Linked DNA regions of Homo sapiens. Each later gene encodes a partner of the first gene's protein in a complex. Each region holds a gene or a part of one and is shown in the gene's direction. Other genes may lie near its edges.

Region 1 (7,112 bases):
TTGTAATTTATAAATATTTCCAGATTTATCAGGCAATTCTCTTTCCTAACATTGAAATTTTGAAAACAGTCACAGAATAAATGAACTAAAGACAAATAATGAAAGTCACATTATTACTTTTTCTTTTTCTTTTTTCTTTTCTTTTTTTGAAATGGAGTCTCGCTCTGACACCTAGGCTGGAATGCAGTGGCACGATCTCGGCTCACTGCAACTTCCATCTCCCGGGTTCAAGTGATTTTCCTGCCTCAGCCTCCTGAGTAGCTGGAACTACAGGCACGCACCACCACACTCGGCTAATTTTTGTATTTTTAATAGAGACAGGGTTTCACCATGTTGGCCAGGATGGTCTCGATCTCCTGACCTCGTGATCCACCCACCTTGGCCTCCCAACGTGCTTGGATTACAGGCGTGAGCCACCGCGGCCGGCCTACTTTTTCAGTCTCTTAGATAGATAATTCAGTTCTCCTTTGTGTGAAAAATATCTTTGACTAAGTTGTGTTGCTTTTTAATTTTTTCTTTTTAGCAGCCAACTCTTCCTGCCAAATAAATAGAGTCATCAGTCATCCTACTCTTCCGATCAGCATCACTGCTCATGAAGACAGGCACATCAAATTCTATGATAACAATACAGGTAAGAATTTATTAAGAATTGATTTTTATTAAAGCAAAAAAAAAAAATCCCTACCACAAGTAGGCTAATTTTGGTGTCTCTTGGTGGTTTCGTAGTCAGGGAATAGGCACTGAACCCCAAATACTCTCCCGTCTCAGTTTCTCTTCACTCTATCCAAATCTGCTAAGACTAGTCTTTATTATACAATACAGAATCATTTTGGTTTATTTAATAGTGAGCAGATGCTATATGTAGGCTTTAGAGCCAAGGTTATCACTAGGGACACCAGGAAAAGTTCACTCAAATACAAATAAAAATGATCTGTTGCTATGATCTATTGTAGTATTATATATTGGGGAAAAGTAGAAACATTGGAAATAGAGGCATATGGTCATTATATTTTGTTTAAAGTTGTTCAGTTATTGAATAGCATTATTCAATATTCAATTATTCCATTACCAAATAGCCTTTTTTAGTGTTGCGGATGGAAAACCTCCAGGTCATTGTATTCGTTTTTCCATAGACTAATCTTTTCTGTATTATAAAACTGACTGGTTGGTCCTCATTGATTTGAATTGTGCATGGAGATTTGCCCAAGTTTTATTTTATTACATTTCACCAGTATAAAGGAAATTTAGGAAGCACTGTGCTGGGAGGAAAGCACCCTATATTAGCTGCCATATTTACCTAAGTATCTGCCTTGTTAATATGTTGACTTCTGCTGACTTTGTTTAGCTGCTGGTGATGAATCATTTAATATTTAAAATTTTTTTCTGTATGTTGTATCCACCAAAATTGTGGCCATGTTTTCTTTCTGTCCCTTTTTCCTTGCCTCATTGTTTTCTCTCTGTGAATTTGAATTCTGTGTTTCCACAACTCATAATTTGCCAGTAGCTAAAGAATGCAAAGTAGGTGATTAATAATGTCTAAGTTCTAATTAACAAACGTGGCTTAAGGGTTGCGTGTAGAAATTACTGACTTCCATATCGTGGCTTAAAAGACAAAAGTGTAATCTAAAATTTGAGCTTTTTTTGGTTTTCCATATCATTGCCATGACTAGAGGCAAGAGGGAGACATGTTGTTTTAGGTGATGGAAAAAGCTATTAATACAGTAAGCACACAGAGAGGGATGACTGGAGAAACCAGCAGGACATGGTAGCTGGCAAATATTGAAGATGAGGAAAGGCATTAATAAGGAGTAACAATCTCTTTTTCCAAAGGCAAACTGATCCACTCGATGGTAGCCCACCTAGAAGCTGTTACAAGTTTAGCAGTTGATCCCAATGGCCTTTACTTGATGTCTGGCAGTAAGTACCTCAACTATGGATTATTTATTTGTCCTTACCATTTTCATGTTAATGTAATTTTTCCTTTTAATTTTTTTTTTGGATATAGGTCATGACTGTTCAATACGTTTATGGAATCTAGAAAGTAAGACGTGTATCCAAGAATTCACAGCTCATCGAAAAAAGTTTGAAGAATCGATTCATGATGTAGCTTTCCACCCATCCAAATGCTATATAGCCAGTGCTGGAGCTGACGCACTGGCTAAAGTCTTTGTATGACGCAATGCATCATCTTCACCTTCTAGCTGTTTATAAGTAATCAACTGCACACAAGAGATACAGAAGACGAGGGCAAGAATCATCTCGTCCTGCCCTTTTGTTCTGCTGAAGGAGCACAGAGAACATTTGTTGAAGTATAGTTTTGCAATTCATATACTGTTTTCTAAAACTAAGGTTTGTTCAGGTTGCTGCAAGCTCAGCTGAATCTGTGAGCCTGAGGTCTGTTTCAAATTTCTCCCCAATAGGCGCCTTTATTTCTGAGGTGGTTCTAATTCGCTAGGCAGGCCTGAGCGAATACAAGTTTAGCTTGTCCCTGTTGAGTAAGTAGGGCATGCTACAATGGATAATTTAAAAGCTTGATAGCTGGGACTGAATAGAAGAAAACGGGAAACTTAGACCAAGTTCTCCCCTGAGAAATCTTGTTAAAACACATTAAGTAGTCAAAATAGTAATCTTTATCATATCTGCCATATTAACCCCTTTGTGTATAATGACCAGGCAGTGTTAAACTGAGTTTTTAATTTGACTCTCCTTTCAGCTGTTCACATAAAGCACCTGGCAAAGCATTTTACCTGTTAGGGGGAGAAAAATGCAATAATATGTTAAATATATTATTATTCAGAAATGCTAGACAAATAGTTTGCAAGCAGATTTCTATATTGTATTACAGTTTTGAAAACAGATTTGGTATCATTCTAAAGTTTAGCTATCAAGCACTCACCATTGTGAAGAATAGTTGATCGACTCTGCTTTTACTAACAGATTTAACTTATTCAGGTTTGAAATTCTGTTTATTTTTAAGGGTAAACAGGGCATATCTCTTTAATAATTTCTATTTTAAAATTCACTTTATTCATGTGACATTTATAGTACCAGAGTGATTATTTCATACCAATGAAATCTTACTTTTCAGTGACTGAAAAGATAGAATTTATTTGCTAATAATCATTTATCAACACCCACCTAATCATGCTTCAGATGATCTGTGCTCTTTCTTCTTTGTCACGTTCAAGTTATCTGACATCTACCAAGAACAGTTCATAATTATTAATAGCCCAAAGAGTATGGTTAACTTCACGCAGCTGCTTTTGCAGAAGCACTAATAAAAACAAATATTTTGTACCCTAGAAGTCCTCTATTAATCCCTGTAAGAATCTCCTGGAAACCTGGATGAAAGAGTTTAATGCCAAATATTGGCTAAAAAGTTCTGTCTTTCTCTCTCCCTATTCCTCCCCCATTGTTTAATTGAGATATACATGTTTTAATGGGCAGTGGATCAGTATTGTTTCTGGGGAAATCCACACCTTAAAAGGCCAGGCTTCCCCAGCCCAACTTACCTGTGACCCACCTACATGTGTTCACCTTTTGGGATTCTGAAGACCCTGCTATCTAGACCTAGTCTCCTGTCATAAAGACATTATTTCTATAGTGGTTTATGTCTCTCTTACTCTTTGTCCCAAATGACAGAGACCAATCTAGAAATTGGAAATAAATTATTAACGTCCAACTTTCCACCAAAAAACATATAAATAGGCTCTTAGATTTTAAAAATATTAAATCTATAGATATTTTAACCAATTAAAACAATTTCTACATATTCCATTCCCCACATTTTCCATCGTCATAACAATGATGCTTCTCATGATACGTACATCTACTCCTTGAAAAAGTATTCTGGTGGTGGTGTGGCTAATGATTGACAAATATTTCTGTAAAATTTCTGCCTGTTTGCCTCTAGAATTCTGCATTATACAGGCAAATTTTCTTTAAAGCTAGAGACTTGTGCTAAATTTGCCTGATTTTCATACAGATATGCTGTAGTAATACAGCTACCTTTTCATTTCATCTTTGTGCTTTGGTTAACAAGCAGGCTCAAGAGACTGCTTTGTGTAATTAAATGAATTGACCTAAACATGAGCTGTCAGGTGAATACTTAATATTTCCATGCAGATACAGAATTCCATATTGTGTTCAGTAAATTTCTTTTGGTTCTTCACAGTGAAGAAAGAATGTTTCTAACCTAACATTTGTAGAAGGATACTGGAAAATTCCTTCCAGGAAGGAAGGAAGGAAGATGCCATTACTTGGTGTATTTATGATGGATGACCACAAAGCTATTGTTCTACCAGTTATTAATTACCTTCTAAGATCTTCAGTTACTGCTTTATTAATGTCACTGAAATTCTAAAAACCAGGACATTCTTCCCCCGTTCATTTTATGCTTCATGGTTGAAATTTTTCTGTCAGTGAGTGGAAAATAACCATGAGATACATAGACTGTAGCGCAAATGGAACTGTTGAAAGTTCCTTAGAAAGCCAGTGCTGTGGCATTGGAGACTACGGAGAGAGTCTTCTCTACCAGCACTGCATGATCTCAGCCTAGAAATGAGCCAAAGCTGTCTTCCAACCAGAGTAGCATATACATGTGTCTGACTTTTCCCCTAGCCTGTTGAACATTCAATGAAAATTCACAGAATGAACAAATTCAATGTTTAAACAGCCATTGAAATGCTTTCATAGTGCTTCATTTGTAAATATTTTGTTTGAAATGTATTGGAATAGTATGAAAATTAGCGGGAGGTTTGGATCCCTGCCTTATTTTCATATGCTGTGGATACATCTCTGGGAGCTTGCAGCACCCTTCTCAAAACTCAACTGTCATATGGAGCTCATTTGCTACTCAAACCATAGACAGATTATTTAACAAAAGTGATATAATGACCTTCAGTATTTTTCTATTGAACAAGTTTAACAACTTTTGCCATTAAACAAATACTTAGTTATGCAAAATATTTCGCTTTTATAATCATTTTAGTTATGACTAAAACGGGGGAAATTGAGCTGCATCACTGATGATGAACTTTGTGAGAAATTTTTTTTTTAATCTGACTTTCATTCCTTCAGTATTCTTGCTATAAATTTCTTTTGGAGATAATGATGAAGATTTATTTGAAAATGTCTAAAATGTATGTATATTTTATAAATATATATTATATATATTGTAAGAATATATATAATATATAAACTATATATATATATATATATATATATATATATATATATATATAAACCATAGGTGCATTTTACTGTTTTGTATTTTCATTTTTGGAGGTAGTATACACAGCAGATAATGATGAGTATGATGAGTGTTGTGCTGTTTGCTTTTGCAGTATAATATATAGTTCTAAGTGTTTAAATTACTGTATATACAATATTCATTATAGGCTAGCATGCTTGTTTTAAAGACTGTCATTCTAGTGTATTAAAATCTGAATGTAAGAAAACCTGGCTATTCAAATGTGAATTGAAAAATATTTTATTCTCAGTACTGAACTATTTCCATTGAACATTCAGACTTTTTAACAAAAACAAATATCATCAAGAAGGCAATAGCTAGAAAATGAGAGGTGCCTTTAAAAAAAAAAATGCAGCCTTACAGTGAGGATGAAGATTGAGTTTGGGGAGGGGGTGGGAGGGGGGGCACAGAGAGAGAGAGAGAGTTAGTGTGTGTGTGTGTGTGTGTGTGTGTGTGTGTGTGTGCATGCATGCGTGTGTGTGTGTGTGTGTGTGTTTACCAATCTGTGAAGGTCCTGATTTGTGACCATCAATGTCTTTTTAATGTATCTGCTCAACTTCTAGGACTTCAGGGGACATTTCATGCGCTTTGTGCTCTTCTGAGCACCATATATACTTTCCAAGAATTTTGAATGTGAATTCCTAGAAATTTCAGTAGAGAAAACAATAGCTATTCTTTAATTATAGTAAAGTTCAGGTAGAAGGAGAAATTATTTGTTCACCAAAATTATGGGATCTCATTAATGTTGGCTAAGTAAATGTAATTTTTTAAAGGCTCACTTTTTAATACTTCATATATTTCCCTCTTACAAAACAGCATGTCATGAAGTTCTTATGTGGTAAAGATTCAACTAGTAAATATTTTTAGGTTAAATACCTGAACTAGTTAAAATTCCACCTAAGAATAGTCTTAAAATATTTAAAAAGCATCTCTCATATCTACCTCTTTGTCATTGCTGCCATTTTAACTGAAGCAAATCTTTATGACATCTGAAATGATGGTTGGATGCAATTAAAAAAAAATCTATGTTGGTGCTTTTCTCAGGCTTTGTCATTTAAGTTATATTGTATTAAGATGTCACAAATCAGACTGAAAGGCTTAGAATTAATTTTGTTTTTCTTTGAAAGAATTGCTTAAAATTAACCATCAATGTTTTTAGCGAGTGGAGATAATGAATCTTTGGTTGGTGTCTGTCTGTGTGATGTTTTCAACCAATAGCCAAATAATTATTGAACTTACATGAAAAAGAGTGCTAAGTATAATTTTATTTAGATTACTTTATTCTTTGAAAGTGACTACAAGGCTATTAAGTACATAATCATTCATTTTATTTACTCAGAAGTTGCCTCTCCATTACTGTTAACTTGTTTAGTAATTTATATAATTGCAGTACTTTTAAGTGTTGGACACTGGGATTCAGGTTGTATACAAAGTAGTAGCTGACGAAAAATATGTATATTTTTGTGAAATGTATCAAGCCCTAAAGTTCATTTTAGAGAAAGGCCCAGAAAAACGTATCTGTGTTTAAAAACAAAGGACAGGTCATTCGTCAATTTGAATCATTTTTACTTTTGCCACTACAAACTTTTTAATTGGCAATATCCATCATCCAACTGGATCTTCATGTCAGTGTCAGGGATGCCAGGTTGACAAAGTATTTAACAGATCCTTTCAGTTTTTGTTTTGTTTTTTTAATTCTAAAAAAAACAAATGTTAGGCCAAACAGATCCCTAGATCCCACTCATTGATTCTGGCGGTATTCCTAAAGTGGTGCTTAGGGGGTCAGAATTTTCTGGATCTTTGCTAATCCAAGCTTTAGATTTAATTTAACCAGGACCACATGCTTGTCATCTCTCTGATG
Region 2 (7,112 bases), on another chromosome or scaffold:
GGATATCCGAGTTGGAGAGAGAGGAGTGTTAAAAGGTAATATTGGCAGAATGTTAGAAACTTAAACAGTTCACCTTAGCTTAGGTTAGATATTCTCCCACTATTGCTACATTTGCATTAATGTGTAAACTGTGTATAATCAGCGGCTTTATTCCAAAAAGTGCCTGATGTTTTGGCATGCACTGGATATATTTGCTGTGTGAGAATGTTTGTGATAGCAGGATCAGCTAAGCTCAGTTAGTGTGTATGATTCACTAGAATATGGACTAGCTGCCTGTTTGGGATTACAGTTGTTCTAACAAAGCACATGTGGGGAGTCAGAGGAGTTTGTATGCTTTTACAAAAATGTGTTATTGTCTTATGTGATTTATTTTCCTTCATTAAAAAAATTTGATTCAAAACATTTGTGTTCTTTCTTTTTCTCGTTCCCCACTCCCTTCAGAATAACATAGCTGATCCAGAAGAACTGTTCACAAAATTAGAGCGCATTGGGAAAGGCTCATTTGGGGAAGTTTTCAAAGGAATTGATAACCGTACCCAGCAAGTCGTTGCTATTAAAATCATAGACCTTGAGGAAGCCGAAGATGAAATAGAAGACATTCAGCAAGAAATAACTGTCTTGAGTCAATGTGACAGCTCATATGTAACAAAATACTATGGGTCATATTTAAAGGTAATGTGTGTGCTGTATTATTTAAGTCATAAGGTATTTTCATTAGAAGTTTTTTAATTCTATTTTTTTGAAAGGCAATGTCTTAAATTAGGATTTGGCAGTCTATGGCTTCCAGGCAGAATCCAGCTCCATTTATAGTGCCAAATAAACCGTTGTTAGATTTAGCAGCTGTATTCTGAATGCATCCCAGTACTCAGCTGCACCCCTTTTCCACACCTGAACTTTTGGTTTGATGGAGGAGCAGAAATGCAGCTGGTCCTGGAGACATCTCCTTTGTCAGGAAAGAGCTATCCCCCTGGGTTTCCAGACACTATTCTCAATGGTCTTAACTGTCTCAACCTCAGAGCTGATGGAACATGTAAGTATGTCACTTATTTCATTGAGTTATGGTAGTTATTTACACATTTCTCTCCCCCACCAGGTTGTGAGCTCCTTCATAGCAGGGAGTTTAGCTTAACCAGTCCTGGTACTTACATTCCTTAGCACAGGGTATGGTACATCTTAAGCATGTGGTAAATATTTGTTAAAATGGAATTAAGTGGAATAACATCTGCCTCCCCCTCCAAATAAAAGTTGGATTTTTACTGGTTCCAGGATCATGGGATTAGCAGACACCTGAAGTTCCAGCAGATGGAGGTGTTACTACATAGCAGAAAACTGGTTGGTAAAACCCAGTGGTCCTTGGGTTCCAGAGTTAGAAGTCAGGATTCGTGTCTGTTGAAATGTGAATAATAAATAGTTGAAGAAAAGCCCCCATGAACTCTAGCTTAGTTTGGAGTTTGAATCATTTTAAAATTAAAATTGTTTATCCTTGTATTGCAGTTTTTCAAATGAAGGCTGTGCTAGATCTTTGCCATTCAGGGTTTAAAAGGAGGGAAGTGTTTGTTGTTACTGGTTGATCTATAGGCCAAAAAGAGCGTATCTATAACTAATTAAGCTGTTGGCCTGCGTAAAAATTAATGCTATCATTTTATCCTCTGCTGACCAAATAAAACTTCGGATATCCATCTATACCTTTACGAAATAACCTGTCTTCAAGTTCACAGATTCTTTCTTCTGTTTGATCAGTTCTGCTATTGACACTTTATTGTATTGTTTCATTTCATTCATTGTATTTTTCAGCTTTGAAATTTCTGAGTTTTTAAAATGATTTAATCTACTTGTTAAATTTATCATTTTGTTCATTTATTGTTTTCCTGATTTCACTTGTTTCTTTGTATTTTCTCGAAGTTTGCTGAGCTTCCTTGACACAATTATTTTAAATTATTTGTCAGGCAGTTTATAAATCTCCATTTATTTGGAGTCAGCTACTGGGAAACTACTGTGTTCTTTTGGTGGTGAGATGTCTCCTTGGTTTTTCATGTTTATTATTGCCTTATGTTGATGTCTCTGCAGTTGATAGAGCAATCGCCTCTTCCAGACATTACAGGTTTCAGTGTGAAAAGACCTTCTTCCTCTGTAGGACAGTGTGAGAGCAATGGCTGGGTGGGTTGCAGTGGTTCTGGCTCCAATGAGGGCATAGGAGTATAGTTCCTGTGCAGCTTTGTCACTTGAGATTAGTGTTGACAAAGATTGCAGGGATCCTCAGTGGTCAATACCTTGGTTGTCTACAACAGTGGTGAGGGCTGTTTGAGGTCTTTGGTGGCAAGAGCTGCTAGGGTCCCCCCAGTCTCTTTTTCTTCCACCAGAGAAATCATAGCCGAGTAGATCCCTTTTGGCATTGGGTCTGCTTGTGGGCCCACTTGAGGTGGCACTAGTGTCTAATGAGTGATGCCCATGGAGTGGCCACAGAACTAAGGCTTCAAGCATAGGCATATCTGGAGGGACATGCTCTGGGGCCCAAGCCAATAGTAATACCAACGTCCTAGGTACAAATACCCCCTACTGCTGCACAGAGCTACAGTGGCTCTGAGGGTGGCGTAGGGCCTAGCTATTTGTAACATCTGAGCTGATGTCTGGAGCATAGGCACGCTCAGAGGGACCTTGTCTCCAGAGCCTGGGATGTGAGCTAGCTCACTATGGCAGTGATTAGCTCAAGTGTCTGAGCTGTGGGTGGGTCCAGTGCAACCACTCAGCTGGTCTGGAGTCCAGAACACAGGCTAGCTTTCAGTGGTGACTGTGTGGATGTCTGGAGCATAGGCACACTCAGAGAAACCTTGGCTCCGGGGCCCTGGGGTGTGAGCTAGCTCACTGTGGCAGTGGCTCCAATGTCTGAGGTATGGTTGAGCTCAGTGAAGACGCAGAATCTGGGTCTGGAGTGTGGGCACTAGTGGAGTGGCCATGACTCAGAGGTCTGGAGCTGCATCAGTTTTCAGAGTGGTGGCTTCTTTCTCCATGTGGCTCAACAATGTCTTCTTCTTGAGATGAGAGAGTTTTGTAGTCATGTATTCCTCTTGGGGTTCCCTGGCAGAAATGGCTGTTGACTACCTCAGTAGCAAGAGATGCCAGTGTCCTCTGCAGAGCAGGCCACTGGGGACCATGATGGCTTCTACTGTGTAGTGATACCAATAGCCTCCACCTTTCATCTTTGTTCCTAGACATTTCCTGGCCTCTCAGGTATGCTGATCTCCTCAGTGATCCTTCCTGTGGAGTTATTCTTTCTTTTTTGCTCCACTGTGTTGCTGCAGATTGTTAAATAGGCCCTTGAATCCTTCCAGAGTTACTTGGGTTTGTGGATAGCTGTCTATATTTGGGGGCTTTTTATGTATATGTGGAGGGAGGGGATGATTAAAACTGGTATCTCCTCTGCCGTCTTGGTGACTTTGTCATCGCTTTCCATCTATCTGTATCTATATTGGTTAATACTGATATAGAAATTTATCACAAATTTCACTGCCTGTTTACAAAACCCGACTTATTCTAATATTGGATGTATGTGGTATGAATGCATAGTAGAATGAATCATTAAGCAGCCAAACAGCCACTATATATTACACACTGTATTAGGTGCTGAAGATATAAAAGTGAACAAACTCACTACTGCTGTCAAGGCACTCACAGTCCAGTTTTGCACTGAAATGATGCCAATTTTATGGTTAAAGTATGTACAAGGTATAGATGATGCACAAATTAGTAAGTAGTCACTTCTGTCCTTTTCAGGAGTGGCATGAATAAAAGGCCTCCAAAAGGAGGTGATAATGCTAGTAATTTCTATCCAATTTCAGCATTTACATCTAAGTGTTAGCTATTACTGTATTTTACTACATACATAATTATTTGCTCCTTTGTGTGATAATTTTGCTGTCATATTTGTTCCTAAAAAGCTAATTCAGCCCATCATATTCTTTTTTAGAGATCTCATGAGTGATTACGCAGTCTCAGTAGTTTTAGGTTCTCCTCCTAATTCCCATACAATTCCTTGGTGGTACATGTGTGTGTGTGCGTGTGTGTGTATGTGTGTGTGTGTGTGTGTGTGTCTGTGTGTGTATCATTTGCTCATTCTGGTTTACTCTTTCTGGACTGAATCCCGGTATTTCCAGACTCACTCTAGGGCAAAACTGAATCCTTGCTACTTTTAGGCACCTGTGACAAAAACACTATTTTTGGTTGCTGACCTAAAATATTAAATACGCCCTATTTAAAATGGCTATTCCATAATATATTGAAAATTGGTACTGATATGGTTTGACAATTTTATTGGTTGCTTATTTATTCATATTCAATACTCCCATGGAAAATGAGTGACAGCTCTATCTTCTTTTCCTAAGATTTCATATAGAGTGTTTTTTAAGTTGCACAGTAGTATACATGTACTAGTCACCCAGTATTTACTTAATCTTTAAATAATTAAAAACTAGTTTTTTGTTTGTCCCAAATTTTGATTGTAAAGTGTACTCAGACCAGCCAGTGCTACAAAACCATCGTCCAAGATAGCTTCTTAAGGGATTAAATCAAATTATTTTTATCTCCTTCACCCATCATTAACTAAACTCTATGATATAAAACACTACTTTGAAGAACATGTTGCTTCATGATAAAATTGTAGAAATGTGCAGCTGGCTTATGTTGATTATTTGTGTTCTGAATCTATTTAAAGTAAATAAATCTGTGTGTATATACATATGTCTTGAGACATATGTATATACACACAGAGAAAGAAATATTCTATAATCTTACAACGTTTTCATACCATGTATTTAAATCACTTTCTTAAATTGACCAACTCATTTATTTTCCATTTATATTACAACATAGTATGACTGTGTGGGTTTGTATTTTTTTCTAAACTAAAATCACGTCAAATATAACAGGATTCTGTTTCATGTAGTCAACATAAGTCAAGGCCACATCCTCTTTGTGCCATCAGGGAACTGTGTTATCAGTCAACTTACATACTTATTGTGGCCCATTGTTCCATTTCAGGTGACATGGAGGATTTTGTGAGTCAAGTTAATTGAGCAAACTGGGAAATGGGTTGTTCTTACACAGGATGTCATCCATAACTAAGACCTCACTGTAAGCTGGAGGAAAAGTTTATTACATTTGAGAGAAAATTATATGTTCTTTGAAACTGTATGCAGTTGTAGTGATTTCCTTGAGACATGCAAAAAATGTACTAGGTATTCATTTTGACTAAGCTCACTGTATAACTTCATTTTTGAAAACAAGAGTTAAAAACCAGACAAACACATCAGTATGACCACAGTGTTTTCCTTTAATTTTAGTTCACTGGGCAGATTTTCTTGACAAAGTTAGTCTTTATGAAGAGTGCTAAAATAAGCAAACCCTTCCCTTCTGATCTCATAATATTGGAATAATCTTTTATAATCTTTAAATATTTTTCTAGTTCAGTGTAAATCTTAAAATGACACTCAGGCATTGAATAGAATTTGAATCATGCCTTTATTTGCTGCTGAAAATTGCCTTTAGATTTCTGTGTATGTTAAGGAAATATTGCCTCCCACCCACCATCACCAGTATTTATGAAAAAAAAAAGAATTGAATGAAGTAAAATATTTCAGAATCATCTGTACGGCTTTGTGGCCTTCTCCTTATTTTTCACTGAAACTGTATGTGCTTACAGCCAGTTTATGTATGCTCAATGCCTCTGGAATATTCTTTTATTGTTAACATTTGTTTTGGAGTTCTCTTATAAAACTTGAAGAAAATGGAGGCTAGAAAGTTTGTTCCTTCTTAAAATGTTCTTTTCTCAAAATAGGAATAGCTTTAAACTTAATATAATACACCTCTAAGAAGCCCCATGTTAGATTCAATTCAACAGACGCTTATTTATTAATGCCTACTATGTGTATTCCTCTTCTTTTGCATATTGTGGTTAATCTCATCTACTTTCGTCTGACAACTTCTAAACTGATGTCTCTGGTTTCATCCTCTCTGCTCAGCCCCAGATATGTGTTTATAACTTGCTTCATATTAATAGCCTGCTTATCTGTGAGTACATCAAGTGCAATAACCCTCAAACTAGGGAGGTAGCATTTGAACTAAGTCTTGAGAATGATTTTGATAGGGGTTGGAAGGTGCAAGTGGGGTAGGGACACAGCATTCCAAGCTGGAGGAAAATGACTCAGAAGTGGTAAATTTTCTAGCCATATTCTTGGCAAGATGATCTCTACTGTCACTTCCAGTTTTATAAAGTCTTATGTGCTGTATGTTTTTTTTAATCAGGCAAAATATACTTAACACTAAATTTGCCATTTTAAGTGTACAGCTCTCTGGCATTGGCTACATTCACATTGATTTTGTGTTTTTTTTGTTTGTTTGTTTTTTGGGTGGTTTTTTTTTTGTTTTGTTTTTTTGTTTTGCTTTTTTTTTGTGACAGGGTCTCACTCTGTCTCCCGAGCTGGAGTACAGTGGCGCAGTCTTGGCCCACTGCAGCCTCCACCTCCCAGGTTCAATTGATCCTCCCACCTCAGCCTCCCGAGTAGCTGGGACTACAGGCATATGCCACCACACCTGGCTACTTTTTTGCACTTTTTGTAGAGATGAGGACTCCCTATGTTGCCTAGACTGCTCTCAGACTCCTGGACTCAAGCGATCCTCCCACCTCGGCCTCCCAAAATACCAGGATTACAGGCGTGTTGTGCAGCCCTCACCACCACTGATTTCCAGAACAAATAAGGATTCCTTATTTTCAGATCTAGAAATTGAGTAGTTGTAATTTTAATGCTTAATGGTATATACTACTTTGTAAAGTCACATTTCAAGCTTTCTATGAACACGTTTTACTGACAGACAGTTGGCAAGTTTCTGTTTTGAATTAGTACAAACAAAAAGGCACACATTGTTTTTAACTTGGAAAACAGGTGCTTTCATTCATGCAGAACTGCAAAATAGGCAGGCATGTTTTATAAGATCTTTTTCTTTTAAATGTCAGGTGAATGGGAAGCTCTCTGAATTCATATGATAGAGTATAGTACTTGTTAGAAACAAACTTGTGGCAGAAGAAACAATTTTTAACCTATCCACCATTGTAAGAACCA
Region 3 (7,112 bases), on another chromosome or scaffold:
GGCTGTGTGTGGAGGACAGAGGGGATGTTGAAGGTGAGGCTATAGACTGGGTTCAGGCCAGAACATTTTGGGTCCTTTTCCCATACCTTATTCTTTCTCAGTGAAATAAGGAAAGCTTTTGGAGAAAATAATTTTGGCAGGGGAGCTGAGATCAGAGGTGGATATGCTATGAGGAGCCTTTCCAGGAAGGGTGGCAATAGCTGACACTGGATGTATATGGCCTTTTATTCCCAGTGCAGGGCAAGGAATGGCTGGAGTTGGAAGAAGATGCCCAAAAGGCCTATATAATGGGACTCTTGGACCGGCTAGAGGTGGTCAGTAGGGAACGGCGGCTGAAGGTGGCCCGGGCTGTTCTCTACCTGGCCCAAGGTGAGTGACCACCCTTGCTAGCTTTAGAGGGGTGGAGGCTTGAGAGGGAAGTGGGCATTATCAGGACTGAGATGACGCAGGCTGTGCTGGGAAAGCAAGGTTTCTTGCCTCTCAAGGACAGATCTTGTCATGTGCTAGGAGTAACCTGTGCTTATGAGGAAGATGAGATAGTGTTGAGTGCTGTTCTAGATCCCTCGGGATCTGCCTTTATCTTACCAGGTATGTCAGAATTTTTTATAGGGTTCTTCTTTTCCCTACCCTGTACTATAATCATATGTGAATACTAGCAAGAGGTGTGGCCAGAGCTGATATGTACCACCAGCTGATCATGGAGACAAGACATCAACTGTGGCCTGGCCCCAAAACTGAGGAGAAATAGGAGAGTGTCACAGATACACATGGACCCCTTGCATTGTTTCTCATTGGCATTTTGAAAGTTCAAGCCAACATAACTGCGGGAGTGGATGCTGTGAGTAATTTGGAGATGATCAGAACTAAATAGAGTAATTGGGGAAAGCTGCTCAGAAGAAACCTGTTAGCCAGGTGTTGGAAAGGGAAATGAGATAGCCTAGCTGGAGTGAAAATAAGCCTACGATCATAAATATAAGGCGTGTTAACAGAACCAACCAGTTGGGAGCTAAAAAAAAAATTGTAAAATAAAAAAATAATAAATGAAGAGGGGAAAGGGTGGACATTAGGTGAAGAGAAGACTAGCAAATAGGACTGTGCCCTCCTGTATCTCTTGGGTCTGGTGCTCTGGCCAACTTCCAACTGCCAGTACCTTCATATGTTTGCCCAAGGACTTTATTTATCTAAGTTTTTTAAAAGAAAGTCTCACTGTGTTTCCCTGGCTGGTCTTGAACTCATAGGCTCGAGCTATCCTCCTGCTCCAGCCTCCTAAGTAGCTAGGATTATAGGCATGTGCCACCATGCTCAGCTTCTGCTCAAGGGCCTTCTCTGCAGCCCATACAGGGCATCCAGGAAGTGTAGGGAATCAGTGTGCTCCTTTAGTTTAGCACCCTCATCCAATGACTAACAGGAGTTAGTGGATGGATAGCCTGACTGTCTCACCCCTCTTGGATAGAATAACTGTGAGTTGTGTGTTTTATACTGTTTCCAAATTATCCCCTGAGTGAACTCTTTGGGCTTCCTTTTCTTCCCTATCTCTACTGATGATTCCTGGGAATGATTCCCAAATAAGCTACTTGCACTGGAATCCTTACTTACCTCAGGATCTGCTTCTGGGAGAACTCACCCTTAAGACGATAGGCCATTGATGAGCACATTGGACCTAACCCTGGAGACTACCTCTCCTCTCCCCTGACTCATTCCAGGAAGTTCTTGGGGCCCCTGTCATACCTATGTCAGCCTAATTATTAGGCAGAGTATTATAGGAAAATCTTAAGATCATGGGGCAGGGTGGAAAGAACTGGGATACTGCCACCCCTCAACCCCTGTAACAACTGTCTGGTCCTTTAGGTACTTTTGGGGAATGTGATTCAGAGGTCGATGTGCTACACTGGTCCAGGTACAACTGCTTCCTGCTGTATCAGATGGGGACCTTCTCCACCTTCCTGGAGCTACTCCACATGGAAATTGAGTGAGAAGCCTTAGGGGAAGGGCTGGCCTACATAACCCCCATTCCTTAAAGGGGCCTCATGTTCTATGCTGCTTCCCTCACTATAGAGACCCCCTGTGAGGAACTGGGTCTACTCACACCTCAGCCCAAAGCTCATTGACAGTTCCCCTCCATCCAGCCATGTTCTCTGATATTCTGTTCTCCCTCCCTGAGGTTGGATACATCTGCAGCTTCTGCCTCACTTACAGCTTTAATCCTGGGCTTCAGGGGCCTATCCTGAGTGGGTTCTCTTTTTATTCAAGGACTTTCTTAGCTCAGCCTAACTCTGGAATTCAAGAGGGAAACTATTTTGAATGCATGACCCAAGAAAGACAGGAAATCAATTCCTGTCATTGTGCCCAATTCTTTCCCTCATGGGCTATAGTTCTAGAGGTGGCCTTATTTGCTGCTACCACTACAGTGACCCCTTGTTTTGTCTCATGCCCATCACCCAGGAGTTTGAGATAGGGTGCAATCTGCTTATTATTCATCAGGTGTTTCTTAGCATCTGTTTTATGTCCAGCACAGTTCTAAGCATAGTGGGGAATGCAAGAGGAGTGGATACCACAGATCCTGCCCTTGCCTTGTCTTCACCATAGATGAGAGTTTGCTGAGGTGGCAGGGGAATTCTGTCAGCTCCTTTACTCTAGACCAGTTTCATTAGTGGCTGCCTAGCCAGGGAATGGCAAGCACTCATATTTGTGTGAGTGATAAGTAAGAGCACAGAGAGAAAAGAAGTCTTATGCATTCCTGTTCTTTTTCTCCTCCCCTGGCAGCAACAGCCAGGCCTGTAGCAGTGCCCTTCGGAAACCAGCTGTCTCCATAGCTGATAGCACAGAGCTCAGGTGAGTGGGGCTAACTATGGGCTTGGAACAGGGCAGATGATTAGCACCTGGGTTACCTTTTCCCCAAATCCCAGATGACTCAGACCATTAGGAAGTTGCCCTGTAGCTAATCTCACTGGGTTGGGCTTCCCACAGAGACCATCTCTGAGGTCTGTGACTATGGGCTGGGAATTGCCTTGGGAACCTCTTGTGACTCTTCTGTAACCCCAGGGTGCTGCTGAGTGTTATGTACCTAATGGTGGAAAATATTCGCCTGGAGCGAGAGACAGACCCCTGTGGGTGGAGAACAGCCCGGGAGACCTTCCGCACTGAATTAAGTAAGAAATGGCACTTGAGGAAGGTGTGGATGGGGTGCTAATGGGAGAGGGGAAGCAGAGCATCTGCCTAGGAGAGGCAGACAGTCGTTTTTTCTTTTGTTTTCTTTTTTAAAATTAATGTCCTTTCTTTTAGGACACAGATACTGCATGGCAGGCACAAGGGCTGGGCTTGATTGCCGCCCTGTATCTATGAGCTAAGACCAGCCATGTAACTTCTCTATGCCTTGGTTTCCTTGGTTATAAGTGGGGATAGCCATTCCTCTCCCACTCTATCACGAGTCCCACATGAAAAAATGAGTTGAATCACCTTGAAAACTGAGTTCTGTTCAAATGTAAGTTGGTGTTGTCATCTGACAGGGATAGGATATGAAGGACTATGGGATTTTAAAAATATATTTATTGATGTGGAAAAGTGAATGACATTGAGTCCTTTAGCCAGAAAGCAATGTCTTCATTATTGTTACTTCTAGTTTGGCATCCAACCCCAAAGCGTCACCCTAAGCTCTGGGGCCTATGCCATTTTAATTCCATGGCGTCCCTTCCTGCCCTTGAGGGGCTTCCTTCTGGGGGCTAAGCCTCCTTCTCAGGACCAAGTACTCTGGTATTCTTCAGGGGAGGTGAGTGCCTTCCTGTGTGTGTCCAGAATCAGGGTTACATGAAAAAGGTTTTAGCTGCCTCATCCTCACTTTCTCACTCCCCTCTCTCCTCACCCCTAGGCTTCTCCATGCATAATGAGGAGCCTTTTGCCCTTTTACTCTTCTCCATGGTTACCAAGTTCTGCAGTGGCCTGGCTCCTCACTTCCCCATAAAGAAGGTCCTGCTCCTGCTCTGGAAGGTGGTCATGGTGAGTAATTCTCCCCACTCCCACATTATCAGATCAGCAATGCCCTATGCCACCTCAGTTTCTTCTAGTCTCATTCCAGGAGGCTGGATCCAGGGAGCAGAACAGGCAGCCCTTAGCCAACTGCTAATATGGAGGGGCAACAAGGCTGTCCTAGAGACATCAGATGTTCTATGTTAGAATGGGTTTCATGTTTCTATTGGATGGATGGGAGATGCCACTCCATAAATTGGGGATGTCAGTGGTACCTTCTCTTATTAAAGCCAATGTTTGATGGAGAGAACACTGGTTGAAAGTTGGTAGATCTGGGCTTTGCTGATACTGAGAAACTTTGGGCAACTCTCTGTGCCTCAATTTCTCTAGCTGTAAAAGGTTGGGGTGAGTGCCTGCCCTCCCTCCAGATAAACAGAGGTTTTGTATTTTTTTTTTAATAAAAATAATTTTTTCTTACAGACAGGCCTCCCTGTGTTGCCTGGGCTGGTCTTGAACTCCTGGTCTCAAGCAATCCTTTCACCTTGGCTTCCCAAAATGTTGGGATTACAGGCATGAGCCATTGTGCCTGGCCAGGATTTGCTTTTTAAAAAATAATGAAGTTCTTATAAATATGTGGTTACATTTCTGTTACTAGTTATTCAACCTGATCCTTCATTTTTGGCTCCCATCTCACAAGGCAGGCCTAATAGGGGGAACTGCCTCTTGACTGCAGAGGAAATTGAGTGACTCTGGGGGTTTATAGCACCTGGATGGTGTTCCTTAAAAAAGTCGATAGTTTCTTTTTTTTCTTTTTTTTTTTTTTTGAGGAGGCCCGCAGGAATTCCTTTCCTAAATTCTGTGATATTTCCCATACTGGGGCAGTAAATAATGCCTTATCCTGACCCCTGAGCTCCTCAGTTGCCGTGGGGATGGTAATCATATTTGCCTCTTTATGTTTTACTACCTCCTTATTAAGGAAAAGGTCTGAAGGGACTGGAGGTTGTGGCCCTTTCTTTTCATCCATGTTTCCCTGACCTTGGCTCTCTCTTACTTCCCTTCCTTCCTCTCTCTCTGCCCCTTTCCTGTTTCTTCCTTAGTTTACCCTCGGTGGATTTGAGCATCTGCAGACTCTCAAAGTACAGAAGCGGGCAGAATTGGGCCTGCCTCCACTGGCTGAAGACAGTATCCAGGTGGTGAAGAGCATGCGTGCTGCCTCCCCGCCCTCTTACACTCTTGACCTGGGAGAGTCTCAGCTGGCACCCCCACCCTCCAAGCTGCGAGGCCGCCGTGGCTCTCGAAGGGTATGGACTGAAGCAGACAATGGTATTGGGACACCGACTGGCCAAAAATCAAGATTCTAAGTTACTCTGGGTGTGGTAGGAAAAAGCAGTAAATGACCCGGCTCATCCTGCCCAGGTTGGCCCTATGACCAACCTGAAATCTTAGGGTCTCTAGTTTGGCCTCTGTCCCCCAGCCCTGACAGCCCCCTGCGCTGTTGTGATGTGACACTGTGATATCATGTCATATATAGCCATGTCTTGCTACAGAATCATTGGCCTGGACCTCAGTGCCTGGAGTTCCTTACATTCTGAATAACAATTAAGGGTATAATCCTGGGGATAGGGACCCAGGATACCGGAACAGGTCTCCAAGCAAATCCATTTTTCTGGGGTAAGGCATTTTACTATTTTGAAGCACCAGGAAGTTTTACTGTCAGCCAGCCACACTCTTAACTGGCCCTGGAACCAAAGGCTTACATTTAAGAGATGACTGGGTAGGGGTCTATGTATATAACCATGTGACACTAAACGACAGGGATACAATCTGAAAAATGTGTCATTATGCAATTTTGTCACTGAGCAAACATCATAGAGTGTACTTACACAAACCCAGATGGTATAGCCTACTGCACACCTAGGCATATAGCCTATTGTTCCTAGACTACAAACCTGTACAGCAGGTTACTATACCGAACACCATATGCAATTGTAACCCAATGGTGTTTGTGTATCTCAACCTAGAAAAGGCCAATAAAAATACAGTATTATAATCTTATGGGTCCACAATTACATATGCAGTCCATTGTTGACTGAAGCATCGTTGTGCAGCACATGACTATAGTCTGCTGTCCTGAAAAGGTCAGAATGAAAAGTTATACTGAGATCTGACTATGTTCTTACAAACTCCCCTGCCTGACCCACTTCAGTTTATCAACAGGGCTAGATAGTAGTGCTCAGTAATCCAGTCTCCATTATCTGCAATAAAATTTTTTAACTTTATTTTTGTTTTATAAAGTAATGCTTACTCATTGTAGAAAATTTGGAACAAATATAAAAATGTGATGAAGGGAGAAAAGAAAAATCACCCACAATCTTAACAACCAGAGACAGTCACTGTTAACTTTTTGGCCTATTTCTGTCCAATCTTTTTTTCTTTGTCACAAGATTTAAAATTCCAAACTTGCTTCCCTCTGCCTAGCAGCAAGCTTCTGTCCTCCTCTTCCTCAGTCAGCCAGCTGGTGTATGCTCACAGAAGGCAAACTAATTGAATGTTCACCTAAGCAGAGCATAATTAGGAAGGAAAGTGCTGGCAAAAAAAGGCATCACTGCTTTCTGAAAGCTAAGTAATTGTGACTTTGGGATTATCTATGCTATGTTCCCTGGCTAATGGCAGGGTTACCTGAGAACTTCTTGTCCTGTTATTGGGCCGGGTGGGGACAGTAGGTTAAGGTGGGGAATTGGATGTTTTCGCAAGGGCTGTGTTCAGATTCCATGTTCCCTGAAATGTGGAGGCCTGTGGATATGGGGTGGCCTCAGACAAGGATGCCCAGAGTGAGATCTCTGCATGCCTACCCTCCCTTCTTTCCCCTCCAGCAACTCCTCACTAAGCAGGACAGCCTGGACATCTACAATGAAAGGGATCTCTTCAAGACTGAGGAGCCCGCCACAGAGGAGGAAGAGGAGTCTGCTGGTGATGGAGAACGAACCTTGGATGGAGAGCTAGACCTGCTAGAGCAGGACCCTCTGGTGCCACCTCCACCCTCACAGGCACCCCTCTCTGCTGAGCGGGTGGCTTTTCCCAAGGGCCTGCCCTGGGCCCCAAAGGTCAGGTAGGTTTGATAGCATCAGGGACCCCTATGCTTCGGGGTT

Evidence for each region.
Region 2: STRN (region 1) and STK26 share a complex: the UniProt entries of both Homo sapiens proteins name them as parts of the core of STRIPAK complex.
Region 3: STRN (region 1) and STRIP2 share a complex: the UniProt entries of both Homo sapiens proteins name them as parts of the core of STRIPAK complex.

Annotation. Positions count from the first base shown.
Region 1 is NC_000002.12:36,844,519-36,851,630, reverse strand, and holds part of STRN (striatin), read left to right. Parts: intron 1-523; coding exon 524-631; intron 632-1,830; coding exon 1,831-1,917; intron 1,918-2,005; coding exon 2,006-2,175; 3' UTR 2,176-7,112. UniProt on the Homo sapiens protein: Calmodulin-binding scaffolding protein which is the center of the striatin-interacting phosphatase and kinase (STRIPAK) complexes.
Region 2 is NC_000023.11:132,054,190-132,061,301, forward strand, and holds part of STK26 (serine/threonine-protein kinase 26), read left to right. Parts: intron 1-441; coding exon 442-672; intron 673-7,112. UniProt on the Homo sapiens protein: Serine/threonine-protein kinase that acts as a mediator of cell growth. Modulates apoptosis. In association with STK24 negatively regulates Golgi reorientation in polarized cell migration upon RHO activation.
Region 3 is NC_000007.14:129,451,379-129,458,490, forward strand, and holds part of STRIP2 (striatin-interacting protein 2), read left to right. Parts: intron 1-234; coding exon 235-369; intron 370-741; exon of another isoform or gene 742-838; intron 839-1,848; coding exon 1,849-1,969; intron 1,970-2,763; coding exon 2,764-2,832; intron 2,833-3,042; coding exon 3,043-3,149; intron 3,150-3,865; coding exon 3,866-3,993; intron 3,994-5,060; coding exon 5,061-5,264; intron 5,265-5,321; exon of another isoform or gene 5,322-5,634; intron 5,635-6,444; exon of another isoform or gene 6,445-6,704; coding exon of another isoform or gene 6,705-6,836; coding exon 6,837-7,072; intron 7,073-7,112. UniProt on the Homo sapiens protein: Plays a role in the regulation of cell morphology and cytoskeletal organization. Required in the control of cell shape. Calmodulin-binding scaffolding protein which is the center of the striatin-interacting phosphatase and kinase (STRIPAK) complexes.